2 separate regions of the Homo sapiens genome follow, and region 2 is linked to region 1. Evidence: fine-mapped expression QTL. A gene starts in region 1. The other region holds a variant in brackets. All regions are shown on one strand. Distances are between the middles of the regions. Region 1 holds the start of LINC02794 (long intergenic non-protein coding RNA 2794). Region 2 has its middle 5.7 kb from the start of TRABD2B.

Region 1 (2,917 bases):
CCTTCCCCACCAAACCCAGGCTGGGTTAGGGCTCTCACAGCCCCTTCCCCAATCCCTCTAACCCTAGACTTCTCTAAAAGCCCTTTTCACACCACTGCAATTGAATCTGCATCTCCCACAAATCCACATGTTGCCTAAGGACAAGGTCTACACCTAATCCCTGTCTGTATTCTTAGTGCCCCATGGAGGCACTGGACAAGGTAGGTGCTCAACAGTGGTTGGCAGAATGAATGAATACACCTGAGGGAGTGGATTGGGCAAAGGCCTCCTTTGACTGATGCTTAGGGAACACGAAGGTGAATTTTTACCTGTAAGGCTGGAAAGTTAAGCTGGAATTCCATCAGAAAGACCCCTAAATGGCAGGCCAAGGTAGAAAGGCGTTACTGTCTAGGCAGGTTTGAGCTTTTAAAGATCTATTTAGCCGCTATGTAGAGGACAGATTGGAGTGGATGATGGGGTGCAGGGTAATCAGAAAGAGGCAGCGCAGTTAGGAAGCTGTAATCATGATCCAAGCAGAAGGTCAGGATGGTTTGGACCAGACAACAGCCACGGGAATGGAGAGAGAGAGGCAGAGTTGGATGAGAGCTTTGAAGCTCCAACTACCCTGGTGGCAGCAATACTGGGTCACTAGCCAGCTATTCCAATTATTCACAGAAATCAATTCCATTCCACAGAGGCTCAGATAAAACTTGTGTTGCCAGCCGACAGTAATGGATGGGGAGCTTAGAGTAAGGAGATAAGAGGAGGCCCAGAGTGTGGGGTGATCAGGTGGGGCTTTGCAGGGTTGGGGAGGAGCGGTAAGAGGTTATCAAAACATCCCTTCAAATAGCAAAGGCTCAGAGCTGGCCCGCCCAGTTGTGATCTGTGACGGGACAAGTAGGCTCCTTTCCAGGCCTGGAGCTGTGAGACTCAGGCCTAGTGGTCCTTGGGCATTATTCCCAAGCGGAATAATGGGGAAGCTAGATCAGTCTTGCTGCCCTGGGGCTTATATTGAGATCTAGTGCCTTCTATCGGGGAGGTGGAGAGACAAGGGCAAGGCCATGGAGTAGGGAGGATGCCCTCTGAGGCCCCTTTCAGCCTGGACTTTCTGGAATTCTGAGTCCATGAATCACCATAACGACATTTTGTCTGCAGGATCAGGAATAGAATGTTCCATTCTCCAGCATGGGACAGAGGGAGTAGGAGGCAGCCTTCATGGTCTCAACTAAGCTGGGCCAGAAAGGCTGTGTCCCCATCAGCCTCAAATTCCTCCACATTTGCTGCTAAGGGAGCCACAGAGCATCCTTCCTCCGGAGACATAAGAGAGGATGTGAATGTGAGAGAGAAAGTTTGCCCAGGGGAAGAGAAAGAAAGCAAAAGACACTGGGGCTTCAGCAGTCAGAAGGTAGACCACAGACTTATGCTGATAATAAATAATTGATTCTTCCATAGTGTTTGCCATCATGGCAGGCACTATCCTAGATGCTTTATGTGAACTCATCATCACCCTCTCAACAACGCTCATTTTATAGAAGAGGAGACCAAGGCCCCAAGTTGAAGTGAACTTCCCCAAAGTCACACAGCTGGAGGTGCAGATGCACTTGGACCTGGACAGTCTGACTTCACTGCATCCCAACACTGTGAAGATGATCTGCTTGCAAAGGGCGTGCTATGCACCAGACACTCATTTAGGCACTTTTATAAGAATAATATCATTTAGCACCTAGAAGGAGTTATCAGCTCCCTTTTACTGATGAGAAGCTAAGGCTCACAGAAGTAATTTGCCCATCTTCTGCCCATTTCAGAAAAGTAGCAGAACTAGGATGTGAACACTCATCTCAGATCCTTGCACGCTCACCTCTGGGTCCTCCCTGCTGGGCAGGGGCTGTGCTGAATGGCCGTGCTCGCGCAGCTCCGGATGGAGGCAGAGTCTGAGGGACCAGCCCCTCCTGCCCTCCTCAGACAGCTTTTCCTCACAGTGTGGGTGGAGGCAGCTGGAGGTTGGCCCTAGCGGCCCCATCTGCTAACACTCAGGGCTGGGAGAAGATAGTGCTTTTTATCTCTGCAGAGAGTTCAAGAGTTTATCCCCACCCGGGGCAGTGGGGAGCCTGGTGCCCATTCTTGGAGGGTGTCCCATGACAGGAGAGATGGAAGGCACTTCCTCTCCCCTCGAGCACTCACTCCTCTCCACACCCCAGCATCACCAGAGGCCAGCGGGAAATGTCTTGGACCAAGCCCTTGGACACGGGTGCTGGGTCCAGTGGAAAATATCTGCCTCAGGGTCCAGGGAGGGCTGGGTACCAAGCAGCCAGAGCGGCCTGTAAAAGGGTCACAGCTCTGGAGGTGGGCACCCCATGGGCGGTGGGGATGGGGGTGCACTTCTAGCTCCGCCACCTTCTGACTGTGTAACCTGGGACACAGTACTTCACCATCGAGCCTGTTTCCTCCTGTCGAAAGCTGAATTCCCATTCCTGCTTTGGAGCGTTGTTGTCAGGGTTAAAACAGGAAAGATCAAGTATTCAGTACCTGCCTCACAGTCTGACTTATAGATGGGGCTCTGAAATGACCCCTTTCCTGTATGCACCACATGAATTTGACTTCAATCAATAAAACAAACTCCACTCTAGTCTCCCATAGATAGAGTGAGCGAGCTCACCCTCCTCCTCCAGCCACCTTCCTTTTCCCAGGTCCTCCACATTTTCCCCGTGCCCTACTGAGGACAGAGCACACCCCTCAGCCATTCAGGACCCCCCATGAGTATCTGGCTACCTGTCTCTAGCCCCCAAGTGACTCATTCTCCCTGAACAAAGCAGGCCCTATCTTTGTCCCCCAGTGCATCCTTCAAGGCCCAGATCATCCGCTGCCTCCTCTCTGAAGCCGCCCCCAGATCCCTGAGGGAGAATGAATCACTTGCTCCACTGTGCTCCGACAGTTCTGA
Region 2 (2,917 bases), 47 kb after region 1:
TATGACAAACAAAAGTGTCTTTAGACATTGTCAGATGCCTCTGGAGGCCAGGATGAGGGCAAAACCACTGCTATAAGACATGCGCTTTGCCTCCCTTGACAGGTGTGAAATTGGAAGCTTACAGTGTTTAAATAACTTGCCCAAGGTCAAAGGGCTACAAAGTGGTGGAGCAGGAATTCAAACTCTTGTCTTCTGGGCTCCACCGTGCATGCTCTTTCCTCCACAGCTCATTGCCCGGGGCCTAAGCACCCCTCCCCTCACCCGGGCCTGCATGCTCACTCACAGATCTGTGCTAATTACACAGCAACATAAAACTTTATATGTGGTTTGTTATTTTATATCCAGGAACATGGTCCACAGCCTTCATTACATAAAGCAGCTGTGTGTATACTTGGGGTCTAAGTGCTATTTAGTGGTCAGCTCGACGGGGTATTTTGTTTCAAGCATCACATTTCTTTTTTCCCTTTCCATACTCCTATTGAATCCCAAATAGAGGAGTGGAGCCTCACACAGCTTGGGCTAAAGTGAAAGGCAAAAGTCTCCTAAATGGCAATCATCCCACTAATTAGATTGGGAGCCACAGCACAGGAATTGCCATATTTGGTATGTATGTGCCCCCCAGTGTGTGTGTGGTGTGTGTGTGTGTGTGTGTGTGTGTGTTTACTAGCCATACCATCTGGCCTGTGCTATCTGTGCTACCTTCCCATTCATGTCTTAAAGGAAGCAAATGCTTTAGTGGAAAGAGCTAGACAGTCCAGTTCTTCTAATTATCAGCTATATGACTTGAATGTGTCATGCCTCCCCTCTGAGACCCAGTTTCCTCATCTTTAAAATGGGGATAAAAATATCTGTCTCACAACATCATTACAATCCTTTAGATACAGGGTCTTTCACAGAATTGGTCTGCAATAACCCCCAGCTCCTTTTCCTCCTTCATGGCCAAACTGCACCCCAGCCCAGTCCCGACTTCAGCCTGCTATCTCAATATTCACCCCTTCTACTCTAACCAGAACCTTCTTTTCCCTACCCCATGTTGGCCCTTTCACTTTCCTCATTCCCATTATCTGGAATGCAAGCAAGGCCCTTTACATCGATTTAAATCCTACTTTTCCTTTATAGCCTAATTCAAATCCTGCCTCCGCCAGGATCATTTAGTAGTTCTATACGAAGGTGAGAGTCTTCAGCTCACTGACTTTGCCTGGACTTTTACAATACTGCACCACTCCCCTGGCCCTTCCATGCATGCGAGTGGGTGGGTGGTGATTTCTAACTCTTTTTCTCTTTAAAAATATTTAATTGACAAATAAAGATTGTAAAGTCTGGCCAGGC[G/A]CTGTGGCTCATGCCTGTAATCTCAGTACTTTGGGAGGCCAAAGCAGGCAGATCACCTGAGGTCATGAGTTCGAGACCAGCCTGGCCAACATGGTGAACCCCATCTCTACTAAAAATACAAAAACTTAGCTGGGCGTGGTGGCAGGCACCTGTAATCCCAGCTACTCAGGAGGCTGAGGCAGGAGAATTGCTTGAACCTGGGAGGCGTAGGTTGCAGTGAGCCGAGATTGCGCCACTGCACTCCAGCCTGAGCAACAAGAGGGAAACTCCATCTCAAAAAAAAAAGAAGATTGTATATATTCAAGGTATACAAAGTGATAATTTAATATATGTATATATTATGTAATGATTATTAAAATCAAAGTAAAAAACACATCCGTCACCACACTTGCTGTATATTAGATTCCCAGAACTTATTCATCATATAACTGAAAATTTATACTTTTGACCAGTCCGTCTATACTGTCGGTAAGAATGTAAATTGGTAAAGCCATTATGAAAAACAGAATGAATGCTCTTCAAAAAATTAGAAATAGGACTACCATTTGATCCAGCAATCCCACTTCTGGGTATATATCTATAGGAAATGAAAACAGCATGATCCAGAGATATCTATACCTACCATATTCATCGCAGCACTATTCACATAAATGCATCTTAACTTACCACCTACCCATGTTTTGTCTTGTTCAGAAATGGCAAGTATCCAGAGGGCAGGACTATATTCCTTCCTGCCTAAGACACCACAATTCATATGGGGACCCAGTAAATATTTGTGAGTTAACACAGCCAATGCCTCTCATTGCTATTATATCCCTGAGGCTGCACACAGCCCGTCTGGTACCTGGCAGGTCAGCCACCCTCAACCAGCACCCACAATTTATGCAGAGCAAGCTCAGGGGATTATCTCCTCTGAATGGCAGGATGAAGGGATTTCCAAGATAATGCATAGTCCTTCCTGGTACAGTCTGATTTCTGAGTCTCCCCAGTAGTTCTCCTCCATTCTGCCTCTCCTCTCCGCCTTCATTGTTGACAATCCCTGTATGTGCCAAGCAATTGCAGTCCCATGTCTTAGCACATTCAGTTCCCACTGCCTGACCTTCCCTTCTTCCTATTCCCTGTCCAACTCCTGCTCATCTTTAAAAATCAACTGAAACATGACCTTCTCAGCAAAGACCTTTGCTGATCTCCTTTCTCCTAAGGCTGACTTCGTTGCTCCTTTTGTCCCCTCTATTTGTTTCCCAAAGCCCCCTGTTTGTTTGCATCTCTGTCTTCCTCACTGGATTGCAAGCTCCCTAGGAACAAAACCCTGGACTGATTCCTATGTACTCTCTACTCCCCCACTGGGCAGGCCCACGTAGGGGTTTTGTTTTTAATGAATGCCATATTATATGGCAATTTTAATCCTTTGTTGCACTTTTGTGACTATGTGTCTATTTTCCCATTGCCAGGAGAAAATGCCCTTTTCTGAATTAGTTTCTGCACTTTTTCTGGTTCTTTTTTTTTTAATTTTTTTTTTTTTGAGACAGAGTCTCTCTCTGTCACCCAGGTTGGAGTACAGTGGCGTGATTTCGGCTCACTGCAACCT

What was found. PIP is the estimated chance that this variant, and not a neighbour inherited with it, causes the effect.
Region 2: its variant is the best candidate, but not a certain one, in a credible set for the expression of LINC02794 in tibial nerve (GTEx, PIP 0.82).

Annotation. Positions count from the first base shown.
Region 1 is chr1:48,048,205-48,051,121 of GRCh38, reverse strand. It overlaps LINC02794 (long intergenic non-protein coding RNA 2794), which reads right to left and starts at 1,351. Exons shown (of 15, transcript XR_007066073.1): 1 at 309-1,351.
Region 2 is chr1:48,001,662-48,004,578 of GRCh38, reverse strand. No RefSeq gene overlaps it. Among named protein-coding and RNA genes, the nearest start is that of TRABD2B, 5.7 kb to the right of the region's middle. The variant G/A (reference allele first, on the strand shown) is at 1,330.